7 linked regions of the Homo sapiens genome follow. The protein of the gene in region 6 interacts with the protein of the main gene of each other region in a pairwise test. Each region holds a gene or a part of one and is shown on either strand. Other genes may lie near its edges. The genes, in order: RNF19A, ZNF593, NDUFS6, PPP5C, ZNF746, MAP3K7 and TNIK.

Region 1 (3,500 bases), on a different chromosome or scaffold from region 6:
ATCTTTTTAATGAAAGTTAATAGCTAAATAACACATGCCCTCAGGCAAAGAATAATTAGCCAGTTCTTGAATTATTTCTGCTGTAGTTCAAAGCTTTTTTTTTGGATTACTGCTTTTAATAAATACACTATTTTGCAAATTATAACAATCTTGTGAAAGTCCAAACACCAGTGACTACCACTGGCCTCTAATTGATGAATTATATTTCATTAGCTAAGCAAATAGTTCTTTTGTTAAGGGTTAATGGGATAATTTATGAGGTCCTAAGAAGTCTGTTGTTGCCTAAATTAATAGAATCTCTGGATTGAGAAGTAACTTTCAGTAGAATATAGCTAAAAGAAAAAAAAAAGAAATTTTCTTTGGTATCCAAGAAGATCAAAAAAATTAAAACTTTTTTTAAAAAATAAAAAGAAATTAATCCCAACCTTGTACCCAAGCAGAACAAAGGATAGCAATTTTCAAAAAGGGAACTAACAGGCCAGGTGCGGTGCCTCACCCCTGTAATCTTAGCACTTTGGAAGGCTGAGGCTGGTGGATCATCTGAGGTCAGGAGTTCAAGACCAGCCTGGCCAACATGGTGAAACCCCATCTCTACTAAAAATACAGAAAAAATTAGCCAGGCATGGTGGCAGGTGCCTGTAATCCCAGACTCGGGAGGCTGAAGCAGGAGAATCACTTGAACCTGGGAGGTGGAGGTTGCGGTGAGCTGAGATTGCACCATTGCACTCCATCCTAGGCAACAAGAGCAAAACTCCATCTCAAAAAAAAAAAAAAAGAACTAACAAGCTGGGCATGGTGGCTTACTCCTGTCATCGTAGCACTTTGGGAGGCTGAGGCAGAAGGATCACTTGAGGCTGGGAGTTCAAGACCAGCCTGGACAACATAGTGAGACCCCATCTCTCAAAAAAATTTAAAAATTATCTGGGTATGGTAGTATGCACCTGTAGTCCCAGCTACTTGGGAGGCTGAGGTGGGAGGATTGCTTGAGATGGGCAAGTGGAGGCTGCAGTGAGCTGTGATTGTGCCACTTCACTCCAGCCTGGGTGATAGAGCAAGATCCTATCTCTAAAATAAAAAAAGGATCTAAAGGTTGTCATACTGTGTCATAGGTGTTGTATGTACTTTTACTTATTTTAACCCTGCAGCAACCTCGATATTTCGGTCTCTGTGTGTTAAAATATTGAGATTTAGGAAAGTTTATGTAATATATCTTCAGTTACACACAAAGAAGCAGAGCTGAGATTTGAACTCAGATGCATGAATTCTTAATATAAGTTCCATGATTAAGTTTCAGTAGCTATTTGGGAACTCAGTCATGGGGAAACCACCAACTCATGAAGCAATCCATTCTGTTGTAAAATGGCTACTAATTGTTACAAAATTGTTACGTTTGAGTCAGATCTGTTTCCTTTTGTTTCCTTTATTTCTGTTTCTAACTTCTGGGACCCGACTGGGAATAAGGTTGATCTTCTTCTGTAAAACAGCTGAATTTTTTATATTCAACATACATTTTATAATCAGAAAAATAATATATACTATTTCTTAAAAATTAGTTTTGGGGCTGATGACAAACATATTTATAAGTCACATATTTATTTCTGAAGGTTTTAAGTGAGTAAACCTGGACTTTAAAAAATGTTGGGCCATGTGTGGTGGCTCATGCCTGTAATCCTAACACTTGGGGAGGGTGAGGAGGGAGGATTGCATTAATCCAGGAGTTTGAGACCAGCCTGGGCAACACAGTGTGACACCTTGTCTCTACAAAAAACTAAATAATCAGCTGGGAGTGGTGGTGCATGCCTGTAGCCCCCGCTATTAAGGAAGCTGGGATGGGAGGATTGATTGAGCCCGTGAGGTTGAGGCTACAGTGAGCTGTGATCGTGCCACTGCACTCTAGTCTGAGCGACACAGAGAGACCCTATTTCCAAAAAAGAGAGAAAAAATAAAAAATTTCAAAATATATTAGCTGATCGTAATTTTTCATGTAGTTATTCAAAGCAAGGCTTTGCTGAAAACAAAACTATTCAGATACTTAGAAGGGAAAGAGAGACTGTTGTACCACATGTACCTATAAATCATTTATAGAGAAGAGATTATTTACCTCATTGTTCAGGTCATAGGGTACAGTTACAGATCTCCTTTTTTCAAACATGTACCCAAAGGGTTGTAAATGAATGAATTAGTTTTCCATTGAAATAATATTCTGTGGTGCTTTGGGATCCCAACCAGCCTAGGAAAACCTGCTAAGTCAATAAAGTACCCAAAAGCTGAGCCTTCACTTAACAATAAAAAGTAGAGAATGTGGCAAAAAATAGTAAACAGAAAAATTAAGTTGAACCAGAAATAGTGGGATAATGTGATCACTAATCAAACATTGGTGCTTGAGGCTGAAAAATTTTCTAGAAGACTCCTTTCTCTTGGCAGCCTGCCTTTGCAAGTCTGCTCCATCAGTTGTGCCTTTTCTCTTCTTCAGTGCTAAGTTTCCCAGGAATGGGAGTGGGGAGGAGCAGGAATTAGCTGCAGTGCTGAAGGATAATGAAAGGTACCTTGGGAAGGTCTACCATCTCTGCCTGCATGGACTGTGTAGGGAAGTGAGGAGGCTCATTGACAAGGAACCTCTAGTCAATGCTGGGAAATGGGATTCTGACTAGGAAATAGAAAGGTTTCTTGTCCCATACATGCATCACCCACCTCCCACCCCAACCTTTCTACTGTTTTCCACAACACTCATCGTACTTTACAGCCTTCCAAAGGCCAAAGGTGTTATTATACCATGTAATAATAGATTATTTTATAAGTCCCATCTGTAGTATTGTTTATAAGTCATTTTATTTTAGAGAGTCCCCATACTTTTGAGGCTGTTTTGAATTTGTTTTGGAACAGAGGGGGAAAATGTGCCATATTAGCCCTTGCAAACCATGAAAATAAAGATCTCAAAGTTCATATAATTTCACAAGCCAGTTTTTAATCACCGCTTCTATGATGATATCAAATTCTACTTATTAACACCTGTCCTGTACAGAGATTGCTGAGTGAATTCAATCCTGTCTTCTGGTAGCCATTATTTATCATCTTTTTTCTTTCTCTGCCATTTACTTTGAGCTATAAATGAGAGCCCTGGAATTTGAGTCATTTGTCAATATTGTCTTCATAAAAAGGATCTGAGAAAAAAATAATACTGTTTATTCATACTTGTTTATTAGAACTGCTTTTTAAGGTCAATTTTTAAAAAGAAACCTTCCCTAGAAGCCAATTTTTACCATTTAGAGAATATTCTTTAGAAAGAAACCTTTAGAATGCTGGAAGTATCCTGTTGGTGAACCATGTAACTCATAACTGTGTTGAAAATAATAATCTTAATTTCTTCCTCTTTGCTCGATACATAATTACACTACTTTTGATTAAGATTATAAAGATGACTTTTACTCAGAACTTTTAAGCACAAAGTAAAATCCATTAAATCACTGTCTTAAGCAAATTAATAAGGAGCAAATTATTTG
Region 2 (2,695 bases), on a different chromosome or scaffold from region 6:
AAAGGAGTCGGGGAGTGGGGGATGGAACAAGCTTCTGCCACCTTAGCCCCTTGTCTTGACCCATATTGGCCAAGAATAATGAAGTCATTTGTCTCTAGAGAGGCTTTCTTCCTGGGCCTAGGAGTACTTGAGTTGTTCATCTCTTAGCATGCCTCCAGGAAAATCTTCTTCCATTCACAAAATCCTGAGGTCTGGGACCCACACTGGAGCCCCTGTGACTGTAGTCATACTAGTTGTGTCCTCAGCAGGGCTCCACCCTGTGTCCCTACTTAGCCTCAATGAACTGGAGCAGGAAGGTCCGCAGGCCCCCAGTGGGCACCTTGGGCTTACATTTCACTCCTTTGTCTGGGCTGGAAACTGATTCCTCTCCCCAGGGATACACGTGCCTGTCTCCTTGTTTCCTGGCAACAGACTCCAAAGAGCTGGAGCCCCTGAATTATTGCTAAGCTCCTCTGGCCCCTTCCAGCTGAGTTGGCTCTGGCCAGCCTGGGAGGCACCAGGCTCCTGTGAATGGGGAAAGGCCCTCTAGCCACTCTGAGCATGCAACACCTAGGCCTTTGCTGCCAGCCCACCTCTGGGAGCCCAGGGCTTAGAGAAAGGAGGCAAAGATGGAGAGGTCCTTCTATGAGTACTTGTGAGAGGAACTGATCCCTCTGGAGTCTGGATGCCTGAGGACTGCACTCTCTGGGGAGGAACACCCTTCACGGATTTGGTTGGGGTCAGAGAGAGGATGGAGACTCAAGGGAATAACGGGAGCCCGGAGAAGTGAGGGCTTTTTCAGGGACTGGAGATTATCTCGGGAAGCCCTGGTGGGGCTGGGATTCCAAACTTATTCACTCTCAGTCATTTACTAATTTATTCATGACACAGACATTTATCAGTGCTTTCCAGAGATAAAGCATCCCACCCCCACCGCGGAGTCCAAGGTCTGGGAAACAGGAAGGGATGACAGGAGTACAGGTTGGCACTGATACTGGTTGGACCAGGCCAGGAAGAGCAGGGCAGCAAGACGGCCCCGAAACCCCCAGGCGCACGCACCACCCCGCGCCTCCCCAGCGAGGGCCCGCGGGGCCATGCCCTTCAGTGGGCACACTTCTGGGAGCCCGTCCTGAGCTCGGTCACTGACGTCGACGGCCGCCTGGCGGCGCTCGAGCCGCTGGCCGAGAGTGACGTCATCAGAGGCGGTCCGGCCGAGCCTGCCTAGCCCCCCGGCGTGGCCTGACGTAGCTGATCGGCCCGGAAGTGCTCACACGTGTGCTCCCTGCCCTGCTCCTGGCCCCTTGGCCGGCCGGGCTGTTTCTGGCCATGGGTCGCTCCCGCCGGACAGGCGCGCACCGAGCGCACTCTCTAGCCCGGCAGATGAAGGCGAAGCGGCGGCGGCCGGACTTGGATGAGATTCACCGCGAGCTGCGGCCTCAGGGATCCGCACGACCCCAGCCCGACCCAAACGCCGAGTTCGACCCCGACCTGCCAGGGGGCGGTCTGCACCGCTGTCTGGCCTGCGCGTGAGTCCCGGACGAGCCCGGCCTGGGGCGGAGGAGGGTCCGCGGTACCGGCCGGGAGATGTGAAGTTGAAGCCCCAGGCAGCGCAGAGTCTTCTCTCTTGGGACCCGTGGGTCCGCCCGCCTCCCGTTTCTCAGACCCGGATCCTGGCGTCAGGGACAAGCTAGGGCTAGGGAGATAGGTGCACTTGGGAGACTATCACCTCCTCACTCTCCTTCTCACTTCCATTCCTACAGGAGGTACTTCATCGATTCCACCAACCTGAAGACCCACTTCCGATCCAAAGACCACAAGAAAAGGTATGAAGGAGTAAGGAGAGGATTGATGGATGGGTGCTCAGCAGATAGGGCTCTCACCTGGTCAGCTCCCAACTCCTGTTTTTCTTTCTCCCAGGCTGAAGCAGCTGAGCGTCGAGCCCTACAGTCAGGAAGAGGCGGAGAGGGCAGCGGGTATGGGATCCTATGTGCCCCCCAGGCGGCTGGCAGTGCCCACGGAAGTGTCCACTGAGGTCCCTGAGATGGATACCTCTACCTGACATGGCCTGAAGATGCAGGGCAGAGGAATTGCCCATGGACAGTGACGCAAGGACTAGGCTGGGAGGGAGCGTGCCAACCCCTTTTGCCTCTGGGTTTGGGGAGCGGAGGGCCTCTTCTTGGTGCCCTGCCCCAAATAAAGGAACTGGACAAAGAGAACTTGCCTCCAACTCTAACTTCCAGGCCGCTGTCTCAAACTCCTGCCCTGGAAGGGCTTCTCTACTACTTTCTGTACACCAGGCCTAGGGTGTCTACTCCCCACTTGGTCTATCTCTGCCTTCCCTCTGAGGTCCTAGCATCTGAACTGGAGCACCCAGATGGAGGCCTGATGCAGTGTGGGGTGGCGGGAGTGGGATCAGATTACTCTGTCCTGCTTCTGACAGAGACTGATCCCCAGAAAAGAAGGCTTCTGAGATTGCACCCCCCTCCCGAGTCACCTACCCCCAGCATCCAAGTGAGAGTCTCTCTTCTTCGTTACGGGGCCCGTGGCACCCGCCGCTGCCCCACCATCTTCCAGACGGCATAGCAGGAGCCACCCAGGCCGAGGACAGCTAGCACTGTAGCCACAACTCCTGCCAGCAGACTCCGGGGCTCTGCCTTCAGCTCACCAGCTACCTGCATCTGGAGGTGCACAGAGGGTGTGCCTCAGGGGTCAGTTG
Region 3 (2,571 bases), on a different chromosome or scaffold from region 6:
TTATAATCCTTACTCTTTTAAAAACATAGACTGTCCTTAATGTGGCCAGTATGTGACTTTCGATGCCTTCAAACCAGTGCTTAAATTCTTGGGTTTTAAGATCTGACATTTCAACATAGGGACTAGGACGGACGGATAGACCAGCTCTGCAAGCCAGCAACAGGAGAGAGGCTGACCTTCCCATAGGACCAGTTGAGGCCTGGGCACCCTCCTTCACTATGCACCTCAAGACCCACCTTGGCTCTCTGAAGCACAGTTGCATCTGCAAAACAAGAGGCACTTCTCCTTCTCCTTCCCTGCCCCCCGCCCATTCCTGCAGCCCACGTGGCCCCAAGGATAAGAGGAGACACACAGAAGCAGCCGGTAAGGCAGGCAGCGGCCGGCAGGAGGCAGCTCAGGCTCACTGGAGCGGGCACTGCTTCCACTCGCATGTCTACCCATGTCCACGTGGATGTTCACTTCCAAAGCCCAGACTATGAAAGAAACAAACTTACAAATTGTCAGCCTTGACAGCAACACCCTTTATTCAGCACCAGGAATACCCTTCGCACAGAACCAGCGAGCTTCACGTGCTCAGCTTCCCCGCGGAAATGCTCACAGGATGCTGCGGGACCCCCGGCGTGCCACACGCTCTAGTGGTGGTGCTGTCTGAACTGGAGCCCACAGTAACCGCATGTGCCGGTTTTTGTTTCTTTGTCCTGAAAAAATTCAAAAGGAATGATGTCATATTTCCATATTCTACTTCAAATCTAGATATTAAGCATTGAAAATGTATGTATAAAACTTAGACTGTCAGAAACAAAAATACGCAGTTACTACTGAAGTAAGAATGCAGACTGTCGATCTCGGTTCCAGGCTGACCGAAGCCCCTGGCCTCAGGCTCCCACCCCGGGCTACGCAGCCATCCCCTAGGACCCCCAGGGACATCACTGTCAGCCTGCAGCTCCATTCACTCCCCACACCTCAGCGGCCTGGAGCAGGCGGTGGGTGCTGCACACGACAGTGAGGCACAACCAGGCTTGGCCTTCAGGGCTGGAGCCCAGGAGGGGACATGCCGGGTGCCCAGTCCCACTCTAGGCTGCTTAACCATTTATGCCTGTTACACTGTCCCCTTTTCAGGACAGGCAACAAGATAATGACAGCTTTTAATAAATGTCAGCTCTAACGAAGTTAAAGTCCCTTAACCAGGACTCTGCTTTGGGGAGAACACCAAGCCCAGCAGCCGCCTGAGTCCCTGAGTGCTCCACTGTCGGTGGCCTCCCCCTCTCCCTGCACCCCAGGTCAGCAGCCGCCCGAGTCCCTGAGTGATCTGTGGCAGCCTCCCTCCCACCCTGCACCCCAGTTCCACATCCCAGCTTCAGCCCACGGTCTCTTTCTCCGGTCCTGTGTTCTTTTTTTTCTCAATGGTCCTGTATATGACACTCATCAACAGGCATAAAAGATTACATAGGGATTGTTAGAAAATAAACCGTGTGCCCCCCAAAGTCCTAACCCCCGATGTGACTGTATTTGGAGATGGGGCCTTTAAAGAGGTGATGAAGGTAAACTGAGGTCACATAGGGGCCCTGAGCCAATCTGCCTGGTGCCCTTATAAGAAGAGGGGATGAGGAGTCTCCCACAGAGGGACGGCCCTGTGAAGACACAGGGAGGAGACCTCATCTGCAAGCCCCGGAGCGAGGCCCCAGGAGGAACCCACAGAGCGGCACGGTGGTCTTGGGCTGCAGCCTCCAGCGCTGTGGGAAATGTGTTTGTTGTTTTCGACCCCAGCCTGCGGTGCTGTGTGTGGCAGCCTGAGCTGAGATGATGACCAAACCGAGAAGGGCCCAGAGAGGAAAGACGCTTGGGCGTCCGAGAAGAGAAACATGCCGCCCACCACTTCACAGTTGAAAGGGGGTTTTCGGACAGGCGGCTCTATGTAGGCCCTGTAGTGTGGCGCTGTAGGGTGAATGTGCCAGCAGTGTGAACCCCGTAAGGGCCGCCTCGGGAGCAGGTAGAGAAGAGGACAGAAAGAACAGGCACTGGGAGTGAAGGGGAGTATGAGGACGAGCAGGCTGCCCTAACATGTGCACAGGTGGCCAGCTACGCACCAAGTTTATATACACTTTTGGGTGGCCAAGAGCTCCCCCGCCGCCATCGCACGCTATCACCCGAGTCTCCACCTCGCTCACGGGCTGCTCTGCTATCAAATCAATGGCAAAGTTTTCATTCACCTGGAACAAGAAGAAAGACTTACGTAAACAAATACACAAACTTGCTAACTACATACAATTTAACCCACCACACACAAATTCATGTACCATCAGCACGAATCTATGGTGCATGCTTCATTTAACTATTATCATTGTAGACCTTATTAAATTCAGGGCCTACACACACATCTACTTTTCACTGGAATAAAGTTCCAAACGCGGAGAGGCACTGCAAGAATCCCAGCAGCACAGAGCCTTTCCCTTCTGTCCCCGTGGACCCAGCAAATGCTGACACGTGCCCCGTGGGCTCTGCCACGCCCTCTTCTCCCCACCACATCGTTCTGTCCCACCTGAGGACATTTGTATTGCTCGGGCCTGTCTG
Region 4 (3,195 bases), on a different chromosome or scaffold from region 6:
CGCAATCAGGACCGCGGACGCCTCATGTCTGCCTGGGAGGTCTCCAAAGGGCCAAACACTCCCGGACTCGGCCCTGCAGGAGTCATTTGCTGTAGACCATCCCCCAGTGCCACATACCACTGGAGAAAGCTGAGTCCAGAGGAGCTCAAACTTGAAAACACAATCTCTCTGGAGGGTCAAGGCCTGGCAGGGCAGCCTGAATGGAATCCAACGTTACCTGTGACTAAGAGCCAACTGGGAGTGAGACAAGGGTCCTCTGGTCTCCCTGGATGACGGGAGATGCGCGCCTCATCGTGTGATGTCAAGAACCACTGCTGGGCCTACCCTGAGCAGGGAGCAGGGAGCGGCACTGTCATGCTTGTTGCTGGAGCCAGCAAAGGATGAGGCTATGCCTCAGCTTCCGCTCCGCTCCACTCAGTGCTGGCCTCATCGCCCCACCCAGGGGGCAGAACTCTCCCCAGGAGCCCACGGTGCTGGGCAGAGGCAGAGGCCACTTGGGCGGTCAGCCCAGAGCTGGGTGGGCCCGGCCAGCGGGACTTTGCGGCCTCCCCACCCTCCGGATCTCCTGAGCAGGCGTAACCCAACCCGGGCAGCTCCTTCGGCTCCACCATCCAGAGACAAGCTGACTTCCGATAATGACTTTATTTTAACATATTTAATTACAGACATAAAATAGCTGGGGAGGGGGGTGAGCCCCAGCCTAGCCCCACCATGGGGCTATAGGAGGGGAGGCGCAGGCGGGGCCCCCCTGCTGACCCTCTCTCTGGGGGTCTTCCTATGGCGGGGCCCTATTGCTTGAGTGGGGGAGGAGCCATGCAAATGAGGGGGGCAGGGCAGCCACTCGGCCCCACCCCACCCCGAGGACGGCCTCCCCACAGAATGCCCAGGCTGTGCCCCCAGCCCCAGCTGCTCCACCTCCTTCCTCTCTGTCCAGGGAGCAGACCCTCTGGCCAGCCCCTGACTCTGCCCCTACCCCCTCTGCAAACCTAAAGGGGAATAAATACAAACTTTACAAAGTAAAAGGGGGTCCAACATTGCCCTGGGGCGGGGCCTGCTCTGCCCCTAGCCCAGGGCCTGGGTCCGGTGGGATTGGAGGGGCCCTGGGATGCAGGCCGCCCCGCCCGTCACCTCACATCATTCCTAGCTGCAGCAGCGTGTTGGCATAGGCCATGGGCTTGACGTTGGGATGAGGCTGTGGGACCAGGGCAGGTGGGATGGACAGAAGTCAGAACAGAGCCCCTGAGCACCCACCGGCAGAACCTACCCCTGCCCCTTACCAGGGTCTCAGCCTCCTTGTCCCCAGGCCGGGATGGAAGGGGCAGGGGCCCTGAGGGGTGACTCACCACTGCTGTGAACTGGTGGAACTGAGGCCGTAGGTCAGAGCCCTGGAGGTGGATGTAGGAGGCTTTGTTCCCCATCTGGTCGCTGCAGGGACAGGAGCAGAGTGGACAGTGTGGTCAGGGCTGGGTGGGGCTGGTGGGTTAAGAGAAGGAATGGCTGGGCAAGAAGGGACAGAGGGAGAGGGAGGGACAGAGCCACAACAGACACAGATGGACAGAGAGACAGAGATGGGAAAGACGAATCCAGGGGAAAGAATGGGAGGGGCAGGAGGATGGGGATGGGGAAAAGAGGGTGGGAGTGCAGGAAGCAGGAGCAGGAAGGGGCAGGGCATAGCTCATGGAGGTGGATGCTCGCCAGACCCCACTAGGAATCTGACCACGCTTCTAGCTTTGCCCACCCAGAGATGCAGGGAACAGAGGAACATGTCACACGGCACCACGGGGATGCAGTCAGCCTAGTCCAGGACACAGGTGACTCGTACAGCAGGCAGCAACCTATTCTTCAACAAATAAATGATGCGGGTGGGGAGAGACAGGGAACTCACAGGCAAAGAGACTGAAAATGTGGTCCTTGTTTAGGTCCTGTCTGGAAGAAGTCAGCTGGAAAAGACACTTAGGAGAGACCAGGAGAAAGAGAACTTGGCAGGATTCGGGTGGGGGCAAGGGATCAACACTGTGTGTGTGTGTGTGTGTGTGTGTGTGTGTGTGTGTGTGTGTGTGTGTGTGTGTGTGTGTGTGTGTGTGTGTGTGTGTGTGTGTGTGTGTGTGTGTGTTTTGAGATGGAGTCTTACTCTTGCCCGTGTGCGTGTGTTTTGAGATGGAGTCTTACTCTTCCCCAGGCTGGAGTGCAGTGGTGCAATCTCAGCTCACTGCAACCTCTACCTCCCGGGTTCGAACAATTCTCCTGACTCAGCCTCCTGAGTAGCTGGGATTACGGGTGTGTGCCACCACGCCCTGCTAATTTTTGTATTTTTAGTAGAGATGGGGTTTCACCATGTTGGCCAGGCTGGTCTCAAACTCCTGACCTCAGGTGATCCGCCCACCTCGGCCTCCCAAAGTGCTGGGATTATAGGCGTGAGCCACCATGCCCAGCCAGCACTCAAAAGTGTAAACACGATATTGTGGTTAAGAAAAAGATCCCTTTCCTTCTGAAAAGTGCTGGGCAATCAGTGGGAGAAAGGTGAAGTGCCAGGGGCTTGCTGTAACACAGGGCAGCTGGTCAGCACTCACAGGCTGGCCCCACTGGTGCTGCATGGGTGGGTGACACATACGGGGGTGTTCGTCATGTTCTTTTATCTGCTCTTGCCTGTCTTTGAAATGTTCCATCATAAAAAGGCAAAACAAAAACCAAGACAAAAACCCGTGGCTTGGTAGAGGCCCTGGGCTGGAAAGGCAAAGACATACCAGTAGTTGGGGGCAGAGAAGACGGTGACACAGCGGCCTCCGTGAGCCACCTCGTAGCCCTCGGCCTTGACTTCGTGGCTGCGGATGATATAGTCCAGGTTGTTCTCTTCCAAGAAGGCCTTGGTGACGTCAGGCCCAAACTGACAGCTCACGCCCCGCTTGCTGATCGAGCGCCCGTTCTGAGGGTGGGCAGAAGGGAGAGACAGGGGTTCAGGGTGACTGTCTGCCTCCACCTGCTGCCACAGCCCACACCCGCCGGCCCTGCACCCCACCCTAGACTCACCTGTGGCTGTGGATCTGACCAGAGCAGGTCACACATGGGCCCTGGTGGGGAGCGAGGGAAACATTAGGGACTCGTCCACCTCCCCGGGGGTGGTCACTCACAGGCCACCTCCTGGCCCGGCCAGGTGCTGACCCCACAGCCCAGCCTGGGTGGGTGTTGGGCAGGGGA
Region 5 (3,500 bases), on a different chromosome or scaffold from region 6:
CAATACCATGTTCAGGGAGCCCACAGTGTAGGTGTGGGTAGGAAATTATTGTGTAGGGTGATAAGCACCGTGATAAGGGTCTGCATTGTGCTGCAGAGGCCTGGAGTAAAGGCACCCACCCAGACATAGACCTAACATACCCAAGCAGGTGATGGCCAACCTGAGATCTGGCATGTGGTATAGGATAGCCCCACTTGTCCACACATATGGACTCCCAGCCCAACTCCCCCGTGCCTAGGGAGAGAGGGGCTCAATGAAGACAGTGGATGGAATGAGTGATGCCAGTTTCTCTTTTGTTTCTGAAAGATTTCTCCGTGGACGATGGCAGCCACGATTCAGGCCATGGAGAGGAAGATTGAATCGCAGGCTGCTCGCCTGCTTTCCCTAGAAGGTCGAACCGGGATGGCCGAGAAGAAGCTGGCTGATTGCGAGAAGACAGCCGTGGAGTTCGGGAACCAGCTGGAGGGCAAGTGGGCCGTGCTGGGGACCCTGCTGCAGGAGTACGGGCTGCTGCAGAGGCGGCTGGAGAACGTGGAGAACCTGCTGCGCAACAGGAACTTCTGGATCCTGCGGCTGCCCCCGGGCAGCAAGGGGGAGTCCCCTAAGGTAGCCCTGGGACGCCTTGGGGTGTGGGAGCCCAAGCGGCCAAACCCGTGAGCGTGTGGGTGAGCGAGTGTGACACTTGTGGTTCCAGGTGCCCGTGACCTTTGATGATGTGGCCGTGTATTTCTCCGAGCAGGAGTGGGGCAAGCTGGAGGACTGGCAGAAGGAGCTCTACAAGCACGTGATGAGGGGCAACTACGAGACGCTGGTCTCCCTGGGTAAGGCCTGACACTCATTTCTCTGTTAAATGGGATTTTGCAAGTCCTCAGAATTCTCCCTCCACATAGTTGTTTTCATGTCAGTGTTATATAAATCACCAGAAACATTGTTGACCTTGCAAGTTGTTACCTTTTGTGAAGGATGAGCCCTGGGTGATGGAGTTAAAAGCTCCCTTCTCCCTGTGTTGAGTTTCCCAGAATGCCAGTCTGGGAACGGCGGTGGCTTCTCTCCTACGCAGGCCCGGGATGTGGACCTTTCTGTTCTTGCTGACTTGGAGCGGGGAAGGCCCCATCTGCTCTCAGATCCAGTATGTAATTGACTCACATTTGAGAAAGACTCTTTCCTTCAGCCTTCTCCTACAAACATGCGTGGCCCTTACGGCAACATGCCTCGAGGTCAGTGGAGAACATGGGCAGACGGTGCTGCTTGCAGCAGACATTTTCTTCATGCCTCAAAACTTTGCTTCCCTCAGCCCCTGGGGCTACTGCTCTTCTCCTTGTTTAATCCTGCCCAGGAAGGGCCTGGACTCTGTTTCTTCCTGGGCTGGTTTTCTCTTCCTAATGGTTTCTGTGTGACCCCGGAGCCGAGGGCAGTGAGACCTGTTAGAGAGGGCAGGAGCAGGTGCAGACGTGAGGTTGTTTCGTCAGCACAAGTGCACTGCTGTTTAACGTGCACGCTCTGTGGCAGTTTCTTCACCCCGGCACTGTGGACATTTGGGACCAGGTGATTCTGTGTGTCGGCGGCATCCTCTGCATTGTAGGATGTTGAGCAGCAGCCCTGGCCTCTCAGGGCATCTCCAGATGCCAGTCACCTCTCCCCCAGCCCTGGGCATGACAACCAGAATTGTCTCCAGACTTTGCCAGATGCCCCCAGGGAGCAAAATTGCCTGTGGTTGAGAGCTACTGCTTTGTGACAATCAAGAGATTTCATTTCTAGACCATTGTTGGTTTTCCGGGATGACTGTCCCCAGCTTTGACTGGAACGTGGCAAAAACTAACCTTCTGTCTTTCCTCAGACTACGCCATCTCCAAGCCCGAGGTCCTCTCCCAGATTGAACAAGGGAAGGAGCCCTGCAACTGGCGCCGCCCTGGCCCCAAGATTCCAGATGTTCCTGTGGACCCCAGTCCAGGTAAGGGCTGGGAGAAGGCCAGGGAGGCATCAGGTATTGTGCAGGAAACAGAGACGGAAAGGCCAGAAAGGGTGTGATCTTTCCAGAGAGAGTCGAGGAGAAACATGAAACTTACAGGTTTTATGTCTTGAGTTTTTTATAGTTGAGTTTTAATCTCTAACTTAGTCAGCTAATGCTCCAGAAATGAACACTTTCTGTCAGGGAAACAGGTGGCAAACCTAATCTTTTAGGAAGAGACAAAGGCAGGGCACAGGTTGAGGGGAGGGAGAGGAGAACGCTGAGAGGGAAGGCAGGAGCATAGTTGACCCTTAACGCAGGGGCCAGGGGCACCAGCCCCCAGTCCCACGCAGCCAAAAATCTATGTATAACTTTTGACTCTCTAAAAAGTTAACTGCTAGTAGTCTCCTATTAACCAGAAGCCTTATTGATACTATGAACAGTCAATAACACATATTTTGTATGTTCTGTGTGTTACATAGTGATACTTACAATAAGCTAGGGAAAAGAAAATGTTACTAGGAAAATCATAAGGAAGAGAAAATATATTTATTACTCATTAAGTGGAAGTGGAGCATCATAAAGGTCATCCTCCTCATTGTCTTCTTCAGATTGAGTAGGCTGAGGAGAAAGAGGAGTGGTTGGTCTAGCTGTCTCAGGGGTGACAGAAGCAGAAGAAAATCCATTTATAAGTGGGCCTGCATAGTTCAAACCCATGTTGTTCAAGGTCAGCTGTATATTGACAACAAAATTAATCCAAAGCTTTGCAAAGAGTCAGCCTTGCCTCCAAGAACCAACCTTAATTTAAACCAGTAGCAGTTGTAGAGCTACTTTGGTCTACATTGGTCAGCCTTATGGTTTGGTATTATTAGAAGCACACATTTATTTAAGGTGAATCTTGTTACCAGATATCAGCGTCTCAGATTTCCCTGGAGCCAGTCAGCACCTTTGAAAGTTAAGGGAAGGACAGGTGGACACAGGAGAAAAACCAAATTCCTAAAGTGAAGACCTGCTGGGTCATTTGACTAGGGAGACCACATCTCTGCAAGGCTCGACCCCTGATTCCTCCAGAAGACCCGCCCTTGACCGTCCCACCTGCCTTGGTTTTCCCTTTCGTCTGACACTGAGAAAGGTGGTGGTCCGCAGAGGCCCTCCTGTGCGCCACTTGTGTGAAATTAAATGCATCCCCCATGTTCGTCATCTCATCTCAGTCAGATTTGCACTTTCCTAAGGGCAGAAGCATGTTCCGGGCTGGCCGCTTTGCCAGTCGTCATCGGGACATTGACAGTTTAGCTCTACAGATGCATTTTTAAGAATCTTCTAGGCGTCAAGGACAGTGCTGAACACTAGAGGACAGAAAGATGGCTGAGAACAGATACTATTGGGCTGGAAAAGAGGGTTACAACCCGTGCGCGTCCCCAGCTTCCTAGCCTGGGTGGGAGGTTCTGGGTGGGTGGGTTTCGTTGTATTTACACCATGTGTGGAGGCTTCCCTCACTTCCACAGCATCATTCAATGAGAGTAAAGAGGGGCTGGAAATACGCTGGTTGCTG
Region 6 (3,500 bases):
ACACAATCCTTGGACTTTTTTTCTGCTCCCAGAATACCACGCAACACTGATGTATTAAGCTTAATTCTAAAATACATATCAGATACAGGGTGCTGATATAATGAGATATATAATGTATCAGTGATTTAAGAAAGAATAATAGGAATGGAAATCTTAAATTGAAACTTTTTCAAGACACTTAAATTTTTCTAGTAAATCAGGAGGAAATCAGTCATTTTTAATCAGTTTTAGTTTTGTGGAAAGCAGTGTTTATGTGGGAGCGTAGTTTGAAACCACTGTTGGGGTGGGAGAAGAGTTGGTCAGAGAAATAACAAATTAAGTATATTTCTTGTTTAGCCACTTCAGAAAAACACACATTTATGTTAGTACTGTATATGAGCCTTAAGGGTAAGGGTAAGTGCCTTAAGTCTCTACTGTTTTTCTGTATTGCCCTGCAATATTTAATAAACATTACTTTTTCAATATGGAATTCATACTATACTATTTTAAATTGTTCTTTCTAATTCTCCATTTAGTATGAATAATAATGATAACTACCGTCATGTATTGAGTGCTTAATATACGCCAGGATTTGCATGGTGTTCCTCACATGCACTGGCTCATTTGGTCTGATTTCGCTAATTAGCTTTTGGAGTTTCTTGAGAGCACGTTCTCAGTGGCTTTAAAAAAACAAAAACAAAAGCAAAAAGAAAAAAAAACACCTGGATTATCAGTTGACAATAAATTAGAAGATTACTGAGCCAGCAACCCTTCTTGAGTTTTTTTGGATTGCATACAGTGCGTCTGCTGTCTTCCTGACTTGCCTTTATCCACACCACTCCTTCAAGGAGTTATTCGTCAGAAAAAGGCTGAAGAGCTCACTCATTTAGCTCTTTTTTTGTCTACTAACAGTGGGAAAGCAACTACTTCTGAAGTAGAAAAGTCTGTATTGCTTCAGAGTTACTCTGTTTACTTCTGGAACTGTTCTACATAACCATAAATGTTGAGAAGAGACTGTCCCACGCATCTCAGTCAAGTTGTATGGCAGTTTTACCTCTTTTGAAATATAAACAAAAGCATTCTATTCAAATAATTTTATAAAATTGACTGATTGTTTGAATTAATCAACTTAACTGTTTTCGGCATGACATTGAGCCACAGGTTTCAACCTCATTTTGGTTCCTTACTGTTCGTATTTGTAATATACTCTCATCACCAACATCTCGTTTTCTGCAGTGATTCTTACTGGGAAGGGCAGGATGAGTGGTGGAGGTCACATTATAATCTATATAAATTGAAAATGATCCACTGGAAGAGAATGTGTCTCTGCTTTCTCCCTTTCCCTGTTAAGGAACATTGATATTAGCGGAGTTGATATAGCCTTCTATAAAATAAACTTAGCATGATAAAGAAAAGAGATGGGGAGTTTGATTAGATAGGGTCAATTAAGACTGAATTTAAAATATAAAGGTCTCATCACTGTTTTTGTTTTTAATTAAGAGCTTAGAAGCTCTAATATATTGTGTTCTATTCAGTTTATAGCCAACTTAAATTATAGGTATGAGAATATAATTGCATTCTAATATCTGATAATTGAATATCCTTTTTTTAACCTTTAGAATTCAGAAATAGACTCTTCAATTACCAATAGCTGTAACTTTTAATTTACATATTATTTACTTTAGGGAAAAAAAGCATTTCATTCATGCTTTCTTGCTGTTCGTTTATAATTATTTGTGACAGAAAATCAATAAAATACATGCTTGAATTCCAGATACCAATGGATCAGATAACTCCATCCCAATGGCTTATCTTACACTGGATCACCAACTACAGGTAAAGGAGTACTTTCTTATTGAAAGTTGACTTTTTTCTTCTTAGAGAGTTTAAGTTGACAATTGTGTTGCTACCTGTCATTGTATAGTCACTCCTTAATTTATCCTTTTAGTTGGCCTCCTTAAACTTTTTAGAATCAAATCAAAATAATTCTTTTGGTTAAGTTAATCAAACTTTAAATTGGCAGAATCATATTCTTATCTTTTCAGTCATCTTAAAATCCTCCAGTATCTTTCTTTAGTACTGCTAAGCATTACATTTTCACTCTTTAATTTTAGTGCATTAAAACAAAACTCATAAGCTTATTTCTATTTAATACATTTGTGATACATTCTCATGTTCATAGTGACTGAAAATGTAAATAATATACTTCAGTGCCCCCTCATGAGTATGAGGGCTATAAACATCATTTAGTTTGAGCCTGTTTGCAGCCTGAAATGTCATACCAGAGACTACAACTCCAACAATCATGATTCTCTGTAACAGACTGTTAAAACAGCAAGAATAGATTTAAATGCTGAGTTAATTCTGACAAAAGGACACTGAGATTTTCTAGGGCATGGTTTAACACTTATTTTTAAAAGATCATTGCTTTAGTGCTATAAAAATATATCACAGTCTCTGTCTTGACTCTCATCTTAGCTAGATATTGAAATTTGATTTAATTATGTTTTAACATTCCTGATTATTTTCAGCCTCTAGCACCGTGCCCAAACTCCAAAGAATCTATGGCAGTGTTTGAACAGCATTGTAAAATGGCACAAGAATATATGAAAGTTCAAACAGAAATTGCATTGTTATTACAGAGAAAGTAAGTTATTTTTTATGAATAAAAATAAAAATACATTAGTATTTTGAGTTTAAAATATGATAAGGTGCAATGAAAACGTAGTTTTTAGAATTAGTCATTAAGTATACTTTCAACTTGTTTAAGCTTTAAGCACCCTTTTACTAAAAATTTTTTATGCAAAACTCAATCCTTTTGACTATCATATTAGTGCTATGGAAAATAAACTGGTGCTTTATACTTGTTGTTTTATGTTCTCAGAGCTGTTTAGACTTATTATTATAAAGATTTATTGTTTTCTTGTAAATAGATAAAATAATTTGATTTATTAACATTCAGTTGTGCCTTATCTTAGAAACATTTTTGTAGATACATTTTTTCCAGGTGTATGTTTAGAATTGGATTACTTATTAAAAGACTGTATTTCATAACTGAGTGTTTTTCTGAGGAGTTATAGAAACTGCCTTCCTCCCTTTTTAAAGAAACACAGCCTAATTTCCTTACTACTGCATTCACAGTTCTTAAATATGTATGTATCTTCAGTTTTCTTAAGCATGACCTCCATGAAATTTTATACTTAGGTAACTGAATTGTTGGTGGTAACTAAAATGAAGTGATAAGGAAAAAATTTTGGCAACTTTATATATGTATGATAATAGGATTCCCTTCATTAATTTTAATCTAAATAAATGAAAGTTGTTTTTTTCTGAATTTGCGAAAAGCTTTCTGTATGTACTTCAAAAAAAAGAGAGAAAAAATTGTTTTATCATAATTTATTGATACAGTGATTTAAATGGAACCAACCTGGTATTTGAAAGGTAAGCCTAAATAGGAAATTAAATACTACAGTTTGGAAATCGTAGAAGTAATTATCAAACTGCTGGCACTTTTATGTTGA
Region 7 (3,500 bases), on a different chromosome or scaffold from region 6:
AGCTGGTCACACATGCATCATCAATCTGATAGAAAAAACTAGGTGAAACCTAACTAAGTAAGTCTGATTGAGTAAACAGACCAAACTTATAATTCCATGTCTTGAGACTTACCAACTTTATAATGTATACAGCCTTCCAAGTCCCCAACAGTGATCCAGCCTTGTTTCTTTTCTACTTCTGGGTCATTATGTAGTATTCTGTTTCTTAACCATGAAAGATAGTAAACTCGTAGCTTATTCTTCTTTCCTGTTGAAATAATAGAGGTTTAATTTCAAATTGCTGTGACAGCTCTCACTTTTTCCTTCCCCACCTCCATTTATTTCTAATTTATTTTATTTACGTGTGTGTGTGTGTGTATGAAGGCATAATAACCAGTGTCCCCAGCACTTTGTCATTAAAATGGTGTTTCTGCCAGAACTTATGGTTAAAATAGCTCTACGTGTTTTAGACACATCACAGAATTACAATGTCTTTTATCTTCAGGTGGTTTCTTATTTGAGCATGTGCTCTTACTCTCTCTTCCCAATGCAAAGCAGTGTCTGCTGAACTTAGTAAGAGCTAACTCTTCAACAGAGTGATCAGAGTTCCAGAACATTCTAGATCAATCACATGAAGAAGTGTTGGCAACTGGGCATTTTGGCACCTGCCTTTCCTTCACCGTATAACCTAATAACAAACAAGAGGATAATATGGGTTCAGAAAATTATACTGGGCAGGTTTATGGTGCTGAAGTCACTGAAAGGAATACTGAACAAAAATAGGAAAAAAAGGATGCAAACTTGAAAACTTAAATTTCCGTTTGGTAAAGTGATCTTGGAATAAAGAATTCATAGGATGATAAAATATTTAGACAATATTGAAGAGTACACAAGTAGCAAAACTTGATATACTCCATTTGATGATTTGCACCAGATAAAATGTCCATTGGGATGACTCTTCCTAACTAATGATAAATTTAGCTCTATGGGTTTTATTTTTTGGATACTTATTTTTCTTTATCTTAGGCTTTAAAAATGTTTTATTTATTTATTTATTTATTTTTTTTTGAGACATGAGTTTCACTTTTGTCGCCAAGGCCGGAGTCCAGTGGCATGATCTCGGCTCACTGCAACCTCTGCTTCCTGGGTTCAAGCGATTCTCCTGCCTCAGCCTCCCAAGTAGCTAGGATTACAGGTGCCGCTCCCAGCATGCTCAGCTAATTTTTATATTTTTAGTAGAGATGGGGTTTCACCATGTTGGCCAGGCTGGTCTGGAATTCCTGACCTCAAATGATCCGCCCGCCTCGGCCTCTCCCAAAAAAAATGTTTTATATTTTATAGATGAATATATACCAGCAGAAGAGAACTTAGTAAAGCATTACACATGCATTTGACAGGAGAGCACATTCATCACCTAAACTAAGGGAATCATTGTGTGGTCAGTATTCAATTTTGTAACCAAAGGCCTAGAATCCACATTGATCACAGTAGCTAGGATGGACACGAGAGCCAGTGTTTCCTCCTTTCTATGCCAATATGAATCCAAGGTTAGTTCAAGAATCTTTTGCTCCTATTTTCATTTTCTCCTTTCCCTATCTGTGCCTCATGAGAAAAGGAAACTCTTACACTGTTAAGAATGAAGATGTGCCACTAACAACATAATGAAGTCTGAATGTGAATTTTCTGGTTGCATTCCCACTTTTGGCAGATATGCAGTTTTCATTTTGATTTGGTAGTATAGCAATCAGGACAGCAATTAACCAGAACAAAAGACTACATGGGATTAAACTCAAATGGCAATACAAAAGGAATTTACCTGGTTAACCTTATTTGGGGAGAATAAAAAGAGATGAAACTGAGCATTCAGTGGAAAGGTAAAAGAAAGAGGAAGTTTAGTGACAAGCAAAAGCATTTTGTCAAAATGGAAGTACAGCTGAACTTTGAGGAAAGTTCAAACCAGCATCCCTGTGTTGTCTCTTCGTGAAACAATGGCTGAGCATAAATCCATGTTCTCAAACTTGGCTGTACAATGGAAACACATCAGAAACTATGAACGCTCCTGATGCCTAAACCCCACCCCCAGAGATTCTGACTCTGGTCTGGGGGTGCAGCCTAGATTTTCACATCTCCCTAGGTGATTATAAAGTGCAGTAGCAAGTTGGTTCCATACTAGATGGAATGAGAGGGGAAGTGACGGGTGTTACTCGTTAAACTCCTTCAAATACCAAAAAGAAAAAAAACTTTCAACAAAACTACCCTCTTTTAGGTTGCATTTTTAACTTGTTACAAGGCCTTCACTTTAGTCTCCATCTTTTTTTTTTTTTCCTATATAAGGCTCTTTTTGGGAATCAGAAAGCTACAGAGCATAGCAGTAATGATTCCCACACTCAAATCTTTTTGTAGACTTGATCACCCAGTGTGCCAGCTGCACCTGCCAAAACATCAGTGGGCTATAAGCAAGAGAATTTTTGAGGGAAGAGACCAAGAAATTTCTGCTTACTAAATGTCCCTCTAGGAAGCCTGCATTTTGATATTCTGTCTGTATGTGGTAATAACTGGAGTGCAGAAACCTTAAAAACATCCGAAGATCCTTGCTGAGTCCTGACAGAGGTAAAGAGCTATAAATATATAGCCTTTGTGGTATGTCTCTGCCTAATTCAGATTTAATGCAGAGGTGAGAGACTTCTTTTTGGAGGTCAGAATTCCCAGTGTTACAAAATGTGGGCAATCTCACTCTGGCTATACTGCTATACTTTATTGTGTTGTTTGTTAGCTGGGAAGGGCAGAACTAACTGTTTCTGCAGAAATGAGGTGGATCCCTTTCCCGCTGTATGGACCTGGGGGACTCATCATCTTAGTAACATACCTGAAATTGTCACAAGGACATTCAGTCCCTCTAGCACATCCATCTGCTGAAATCGCCTCCGGTTGATCAGATTATAGACTTTGCCTTGCCCACTTCGGTCCAAAAGCATCAGGCCATTTTCAGTCCCCACCAGAAGGTTTACACCTGTAAATTTAAGAAGCACCCTAAGACTGACTTTTCATGAACTTTAATCTTCTGCATCGAGAGTCCCTATAAAATTTAAGAAACTGTGACTTGTAAATATACACTAATGGGCAAGTAGGTAAATATAAACTAATGAATGTAGAAGCTCTGACATAATAATTAAATCATTGTACTTCTGGTAATGAAATTACAGTTTTCTTTTATAAAGTTAGCAGCATTCATACATCTAGTTATTTACTACCTAATGCAGAGAGTCCTTGTCAATAGGAGCCTTAGGCACAGATGTGAAGCTAGCATAATTTGCCTTTATTCCCTGCCTGGAAAAACCACTTCTTTCTTGGCTCTCCCTATAAATCACTTCTCTTCTTCCCCAAGATTCACCCCCACCCCTATGCAGTGGTCTCTAGCCTACCCACCTTCAATATACAGTGGAATTTCCATTTCCATACTCCAATGGAAGAAAGGCCCTTCCTCCTTCTTGAATCAAAATGTAACTATCTTATGCCCCATA

The links.
Region 1: the proteins of MAP3K7 (region 6) and RNF19A interact in a two-hybrid assay, tested with the Homo sapiens proteins (one large-scale study listed by BioGRID and IntAct).
Region 2: the proteins of MAP3K7 (region 6) and ZNF593 interact in a two-hybrid assay, tested with the Homo sapiens proteins (one large-scale study listed by BioGRID and IntAct).
Region 3: the proteins of MAP3K7 (region 6) and NDUFS6 interact in a two-hybrid assay, tested with the Homo sapiens proteins (one large-scale study listed by BioGRID and IntAct).
Region 4: the proteins of MAP3K7 (region 6) and PPP5C interact in a two-hybrid assay, tested with the Homo sapiens proteins (one large-scale study listed by BioGRID and IntAct).
Region 5: the proteins of MAP3K7 (region 6) and ZNF746 interact in a two-hybrid assay, tested with the Homo sapiens proteins (one large-scale study listed by BioGRID and IntAct).
Region 7: the proteins of MAP3K7 (region 6) and TNIK interact in binary tests that used the Homo sapiens proteins (3 or more experiments, as listed by UniProt).

Annotation. Positions count from the first base shown.
Region 1 is NC_000008.11:100,264,954-100,268,453, reverse strand, and holds part of RNF19A (E3 ubiquitin-protein ligase RNF19A), read left to right. Parts: intron 1-3,500. UniProt on the Homo sapiens protein: E3 ubiquitin-protein ligase which accepts ubiquitin from E2 ubiquitin-conjugating enzymes UBE2L3 and UBE2L6 in the form of a thioester and then directly transfers the ubiquitin to targeted substrates, such as SNCAIP or CASR.
Region 2 is NC_000001.11:26,168,679-26,171,373, forward strand, and holds ZNF593 (zinc finger protein 593), read left to right. Parts: upstream 1-1,229; 5' UTR 1,230-1,305; coding exon 1,306-1,505; exon of another isoform or gene 1,506-1,739; coding exon 1,740-1,802; exon of another isoform or gene 1,803-1,896; coding exon 1,897-2,038; 3' UTR 2,039-2,195; downstream 2,196-2,695. Other genes in the region: transmembrane protein ZNF593OS, read right to left, coding at 2,511-2,657. UniProt on the Homo sapiens protein: Involved in pre-60S ribosomal particles maturation by promoting the nuclear export of the 60S ribosome. Negatively modulates the DNA binding activity of Oct-2 and therefore its transcriptional regulatory activity.
Region 3 is NC_000005.10:1,813,978-1,816,548, reverse strand, and holds the end of NDUFS6 (NADH dehydrogenase [ubiquinone] iron-sulfur protein 6, mitochondrial precursor), read right to left. Parts: intron 2,211-2,571; coding exon 2,088-2,210; intron 699-2,087; coding exon 633-698; 3' UTR 501-632; downstream 1-500. UniProt on the Homo sapiens protein: Accessory subunit of the mitochondrial membrane respiratory chain NADH dehydrogenase (Complex I), that is believed not to be involved in catalysis. Complex I functions in the transfer of electrons from NADH to the respiratory chain.
Region 4 is NC_000019.10:46,388,281-46,391,475, reverse strand, and holds the end of PPP5C (serine/threonine-protein phosphatase 5), read right to left. Parts: intron 3,069-3,195; coding exon 3,028-3,068; intron 2,924-3,027; coding exon 2,745-2,923; intron 1,426-2,744; coding exon 1,344-1,425; intron 1,193-1,343; coding exon 1,130-1,192; 3' UTR 501-1,129; downstream 1-500. UniProt on the Homo sapiens protein: Serine/threonine-protein phosphatase that dephosphorylates a myriad of proteins involved in different signaling pathways including the kinases CSNK1E, ASK1/MAP3K5, PRKDC and RAF1, the nuclear receptors NR3C1, PPARG, ESR1 and ESR2, SMAD proteins and TAU/MAPT.
Region 5 is NC_000007.14:149,491,310-149,494,809, reverse strand, and holds part of ZNF746 (zinc finger protein 746), read left to right. Parts: intron 1-306; coding exon 307-606; intron 607-694; coding exon 695-821; intron 822-1,837; coding exon 1,838-1,951; intron 1,952-3,500.
Region 6 is NC_000006.12:90,517,573-90,521,072, reverse strand, and holds part of MAP3K7 (mitogen-activated protein kinase kinase kinase 7), read left to right. Parts: intron 1-1,753; coding exon 1,754-1,815; intron 1,816-2,510; coding exon 2,511-2,626; intron 2,627-3,500. UniProt on the Homo sapiens protein: Serine/threonine kinase which acts as an essential component of the MAP kinase signal transduction pathway. Plays an important role in the cascades of cellular responses evoked by changes in the environment.
Region 7 is NC_000003.12:171,079,406-171,082,905, forward strand, and holds part of TNIK (TRAF2 and NCK-interacting protein kinase), read right to left. Parts: intron 2,990-3,500; coding exon 2,846-2,989; intron 248-2,845; coding exon 113-247; intron 1-112. UniProt on the Homo sapiens protein: Serine/threonine kinase that acts as an essential activator of the Wnt signaling pathway. Recruited to promoters of Wnt target genes and required to activate their expression. May act by phosphorylating TCF4/TCF7L2.